2 separate regions of the Homo sapiens genome follow, and region 1 is linked to region 2. A link means that fine-mapping ties the variant in region 2 to the expression of a gene that starts in the linked region. Tissue or cell type: whole blood. Region 2 holds a variant in brackets; the other region holds the start of a gene. All regions are shown on one strand. Distances are from middle to middle.

Evidence for each region. PIP is the estimated chance that this variant, and not a neighbour inherited with it, causes the effect.
Region 1: IPP starts here. The variant in region 2 is fine-mapped to the expression of IPP in whole blood (INTERVAL, PIP 0.98).

The regions. Positions count from the first base shown.
Region 1 is chr1:45,749,518-45,752,273 of GRCh38, reverse strand. IPP (intracisternal A particle-promoted polypeptide) reads left to right here and starts at 1,621. Exons shown (of 9, transcript NM_005897.3): 1 at 1,621-1,677. LOC105378693 (a long non-coding RNA gene) reads right to left here and starts at 1,325. Exons shown (of 3, transcript XR_947290.2): 1 at 1,026-1,325. RefSeq lists a silencer at 1,511-1,780.
Region 2 is chr1:45,628,839-45,631,594 of GRCh38, reverse strand. GPBP1L1 (GC-rich promoter binding protein 1 like 1) reads left to right here. Exons shown (of 13, transcript NM_021639.5): 11 at 989-1,113; 12 at 1,917-2,019. Among named protein-coding and RNA genes, the nearest start is that of CCDC17, 6.2 kb to the right of the region's middle. The variant C/T (reference allele first, on the strand shown) is at 1,291.

The DNA of each region.
Region 1 (2,756 bases), 120 kb before region 2:
AGATATTTAGGAATGTAGCATGAATTTGCTAAGAATCAGGAATGTTTAAATGAATTTGCTGAGAAGGGTAAAAATGGCTTAATATGCTACAGGTCAATAAAACAATGTTTTGGTGTATCTTTTCTACAGACGGGCAAGAATTATTTTAAGTACTACCAGTTTTCTGGTGAAATACTTTAGTCAATAGAAAGTCAGAGCTCCCTATGGATGCAAATCCGTCCAGCCTTACACTGAAAGGGCACACAGAATTCTCTTTTCCTCATTTCCAAGTCTTTGACAATGTTTGCTGACAATAGGTCCCTGTTAGCAGTTTTTGGTAATGAAGTAGAAAAGAAGAAATAAAAATTTAGTGCACTGCGGGTCGTAAGTGTAAACATAGTTTTGTGAAGATTTTGTTTCAGGCCAGGCACAGTGGCTCACACCTCCCAGCACTTTGGGAGGCCGAGGCGGGCGGATCACTCGAGCCCAGGAGTTGGAGACCAGCCTGGTCAACATGGCGAAATCTTGTCTCTACTAAAAATACAAAAAATTAGCCTGGCGGTGGTGGCACAGGCCTGTAGTCCCAGCTACTCAGGAGGCTGAGGTGGGAGGACTACCAGAGCCCAGGAAGTCGAGGCTGCAGTGAGCCGAGATGGCACCACTGCACTCCAGCCTGGGCGACAAAGCCAGGCCCTGTCTCATAAAAAGAGAAAGAAATACACTTTGGGAGGCCGAGTCGGGCGGATCACCTGAGGTGGGGAGTTTGAGACCAGCCTGACCAACATGGAGAAACTCAGTCTGTACTAAAAATACAAAATTAGCCGGGCATGGTGGCGCATGCCTGCAATCCCAGCTACTTGAGAGGCTGAGGCAGGAGAATCGCTTGAACCCAGGAGGCGGAGGTTGCGGTGAGCCGAGATCCGGCCATTGCATTCATTCTAGCCTGGGCAACAAGAGCGAAATTCCGTCTCAAAAAATAAAAAATAAAAATAAAAATAAAGAAATGAGATTTTATGTTAGATATATACTTCTATATATATACTCACAAGTATGTGGTATTGAGTTTGATGTAAAATATTTTTGTTCACCGTAGGCTGGGATCAAAACAGTTTGAAAGCCACTAATGTGACACATGAGGGTCAACAGTGAAAAAAACTGGACTTTTGAGTTCTTCCTTCCCCAAAATAAGTATCCCTTCAGTGCCAGGCTCAGTCATGCACTCAGAAAACGATTCGAGAGAACAGTAGAGAAGGACCGTGCCAGGTGTTCGGCTCGTCTCTGCTTAACTGAGATCCGCGGCCTTCTTGGGACACCACAAGAATCAGAGTGCAAGCGGAATGGAAAGGGCGAGCCAGCCGGCCCCAGCAGGCAGAAGCAGAGGCTTGCAGCTAAGCTGTTGATCCTTGGGGAAGCAAGCCCAAGCCCTGGGCCCCATCAGTGGGCACTGAGAGGCGCCAGCGGCCCAGTCTCCCGCGAGCGGAAGAACCTCGCGCACGCGCAGTGAAAACCCAGGGCCCGCGAAGCGTCCGAAGTCCCTTCCCACCGCCCGGCTTCGCCTCCAGTTCTCGGGGAACTGTACGGCCCAGTCACTCCCGCCTCGTCACCCCCGCCAGGTTTCCCCCGCCCTCTCCGGCCGGGGCTGGTCGCGACTGCGCGCGCAGGGCCTGAGCGGGCGCCGGAGGGAAGGGGAAGCGGCGGGTAAGGAGGGCCTGCGTTCGGGCGCGTCTGTGACGGGGTTGGGAACTTCCTCTTCTACTCCCTCCGGCTTTCCGGACCCCTGAGGACTGGAGTGAGAGAAGCCTCTAGAACTGTGTATTTCCTTGTCTTTCCTTCTGCCGCCGCAGGCCTTCCTCCGACAGTCTAAGTGTCGCCCTCCCCAGACCTTCTCGTCCGGACCGCTCCTGCCTCCCCCGCCCCAACTGGGGAATCCTGAGGCTGTGTCCCCAGTCCCTCTGTTGTCGCCTCGTTTGTCTGAGATCCCTTCCCTGACCTTTAGGTAGCGCAGGAACGATTATTAGCTTTTAGTGTAGCAGCAGTTTAGGGCTAGCTCTCTAGGCCGGGCCCCCAACTCAAGCACAAAGAACCACGGGTGTTTTGACACTTGTTCCGGGGATTCTTTCTGACACCCCTTTGCTGAAGCAGTTTCCACATGTTCCCAGCAGTGAATTCAAAGCCAGCAAACATAGGTCCGCTTTAGTTCCTCTGGGCATTTCTACCGTTTCCTAATAATCTGCTTTTTTTTTTGAGACAGTCTCGCCCCTTCTCCTAGGCTGGAATGCAGTGGTGCGATCACAACTCACTGCAGCCTCGACTTCTCAGGCTCTAGCGATCCTCTCACCTCAGCCTCCCAAGTAGCCGGAAGTACAGGCTTGCCCCATCACAGCCAGCTAATGTTAAAACAATTTTTTTTGCGGCGGGGGGCTCGCTGTATTGCCCAGGCTGGTCTTGAACTCTAGGACTCAAGCGATCCTCCCTGGCCGGGCGCGGTGGCTCACGCCTGTAATCCCAGCACTTTGGGAGGCCGAGGCGGGCGGATCACGAGGTCAGGAGATCGAGACCATCCTGGCTAACACGGTGAAACCCCGTCTCTACTAAAAATGCAAAAAATTAGCCGGGCGTGGTGGCGGGCGCCTGTAGTCCCAGCTGCTCGGGAGGCTGAGGCAGGAGAATGGCGTGAACCCGGGAGGCGGAGCTTGCAGTGAGCCGAGATCGTGCCACTGCACTCCAGCCTGGGCGACAGAGCGAGACTCCGTCTCAAAAAAAAAAAAACAAAAAAC
Region 2 (2,756 bases):
TATTTTAATGAAATCCAGCCTAATTAATTGTAGGCCAGTCACGGTGGCTCAAACCTATAATCCCAACACTTTGGTTGGCTGAGGTGGGCGGATCACCTGAGGTCAGGAGTTTGAGACCAGCCTGGCCAACCTGGCGAAACCCCGTTCCTACTAAAAACAGAAAAATTAGCCGGGCATGGTAGCATGCACCCATAGTCACAGCTACATGGGAGGCTGAGGCATGAGAATCACTTGAACATGGGAGGCGGGGGTTGCAGTGAGCCGAGATCGCGCCACTGCACTCCAGCCTGAGCAACAGAGTGAGACTTGATCTCCAAAAATAAGTAAGTAAATAAACAAATAAATAAATAAATAAATGTCATACCCAAGGTAATCTAAGTTTTCTTTTATGTTATCCTTATAGGAGTTTTATAGTTTTGTGTTTTACATTTAGGTCTGTGACCCATTTTGACTTTATTTTTGTGACGGCTGTAAGGTCTTTGTTTAGATTGATTTTTTTTTTTTTAGTGTGGCTGTCCAATTGTTCCCTCACCATTTGTTGAAAAGACTATCTTTTCTCCATTGTATTTCCTTTGTCAAAGATCAGTTGTCTATTTGTGGGCTCTCTGTTCTGTCCCATTGGACTATTTGTGTCATCTTCTGCCAGTACCACACTTTTTCCCCCCACACCTCTTATGAGCACTGTTACCATACTGTTTTAATTACTCCAGCTTTTGTGGTAAGTCTTGATGTCAGGTAATATCAGTACTCTGGTTTTATTCTTCAGTATTGTGTTGGCTGTTCTGGATCTTTTGCCTTTTCATTAAAACTTTAGAATCAGTTTTGTTGATGCAGCAGGTCCTCATTTGTAAATGGGGAAAAAAATCTGTGGGCTGAGGCTGTCTTTTGGAAAACACTTCCTGGGTCGTGAGTCCTTGATTTCATAGGTTGCTTATATTACTACAAAGGAACCTTAAACCAACTGTGTCCTTCCTTTTCCTTATTGCAGTTGGAGGACAACAGCACACCTGAACCAAAGGAAAATGGGGAGGAAGGCTGTCATCAAAATGGTCTTGCCCTCCCTGTAGTGGAAGAAGGGGAGGTTCTCTCACACTCTCTAGAAGCAGAGCACAGGTAAGTGAGGAGGACATCACAGGGCATGCAGTGTCTGACCTTTAAGGACCTTGAACATACTGGAGAAGATATCTCAGATAGATAGGTCCCACATGCAGAGAGAAGTGGCCCAGTCATAACTTGTTCTCTGTGTATGCCCCAGGTTGGCCTGTTGCTCATCAAGCATTCTCTCTCAAA[C/T]TCAGCCATCTTTTCCACAATCTACTCTCCAATACTTTAATACTTTTAACTTCAGGCCGGGCGCAGTGGCTCATGCCTGTAATCCCAGCACTTTGGGAGGCTGAGGTGGGTGGATCAGTCAAGGTCAAGAGTTTGAGACCAGCTTGGCCAACATGGCGAAACCCTGTCTCTACCAAAAATACAAAAAGTAGCTGGGCATGGTAGTGTGCGCCTGTAATTCCAGCTACTAGGGAGGCTGGGACGGGAGAATGGCTTGAACCCGGGAGGCGGAGGTTGCAGTGAGCTGAGATTGTACCACTGCACTTCAGCCTGGGTGACAGAGTGAGACTCCATCCCAAAAAAAAAAAAAAGCCAGACTGCAAGTGCTCTCTTTCTTCCTTACACTGTCTTGGTTTTGCTTCTACTGTCTCTTCTTTAGCTCTTCCTCTCTCAACTGTGAAGAGCCTCCATTTATTTACAGCACCCAGGTAGCCACAATTAAAGCTTGTCCCACAGGGAGGAAAACAAAATTCCTTCTTTAACATCCATTGCCCCTGGGCAGAAAACTTTTCTGTGAAAAGTGGTGGGCTGTTCACTTAGGCTTAGTGATGTTGTATTCTCTTTACCTGTCCTTCTGCGTCCACCAGGTTATTGAAAGCTATGGGTTGGCAGGAATATCCTGAAAATGATGAGAATTGCCTTCCCCTCACAGAGGATGAGCTCAAAGAGTTCCACATGAAGACAGAGCAGGTATGTTGTAAACCTTCTTCCTAGAGACCAGTTAGTAACCAGGAGAATAAGGAGTCAAGACAGTTCTTGCCCTGAGGGAGCAAGTTTAATGTGAGAGAAAGATCGGGTGGGGGGGGGGGGGATTACCTTAGTAGAAATGTAGTGGGGCCCCTAAATCTGCCTGGGAAATAAGGATCCCCAGTGTTATATACAAAAACCAAGTGTCAGTGATTAGCAGATTCCAAAAAATAGTATGCTCTTTCATCCTAACAGCTCTAACTCCTTATCAGAACCACAAGGCTGTGTTCCAGAGCTATGGTCTGAGCTCTTGGTCTTTAAGGAAGCAGGTTCACCTTCCTCTGCTTCCTGATCTGCACTGTAGTTTCCTGGTCCTCTGGCCAGAGCTAAGAAGCTAAATAGCTTGTGTCAGTTTATCCAGCAGTTGCTTGGATTCTTTCTCTGAATAAAACACTGCTAGATCTTAGGGTGAACAAGACAAATGGGGTTTCTATAAAAATCCTTGAACTTCTGGTGGCCTGTATTTACAGCACAATTGGCCAAGTCCTTAAAAGGGGCATGGCACAAGCTGATGTGAGACCTTGCCACTTAGAACTCTGTTAGAAATAAGGACTTATGGCTGGGCACAGTGGCTCACGCCTGTAATCCCAACACTTTGGGAGGCCGAGGCAGGCAGATGACGAGGTCAGGAGCTCAAGAGCATACTGGCCAATATGGTGAAGCCCCATCTCTACTAAAAA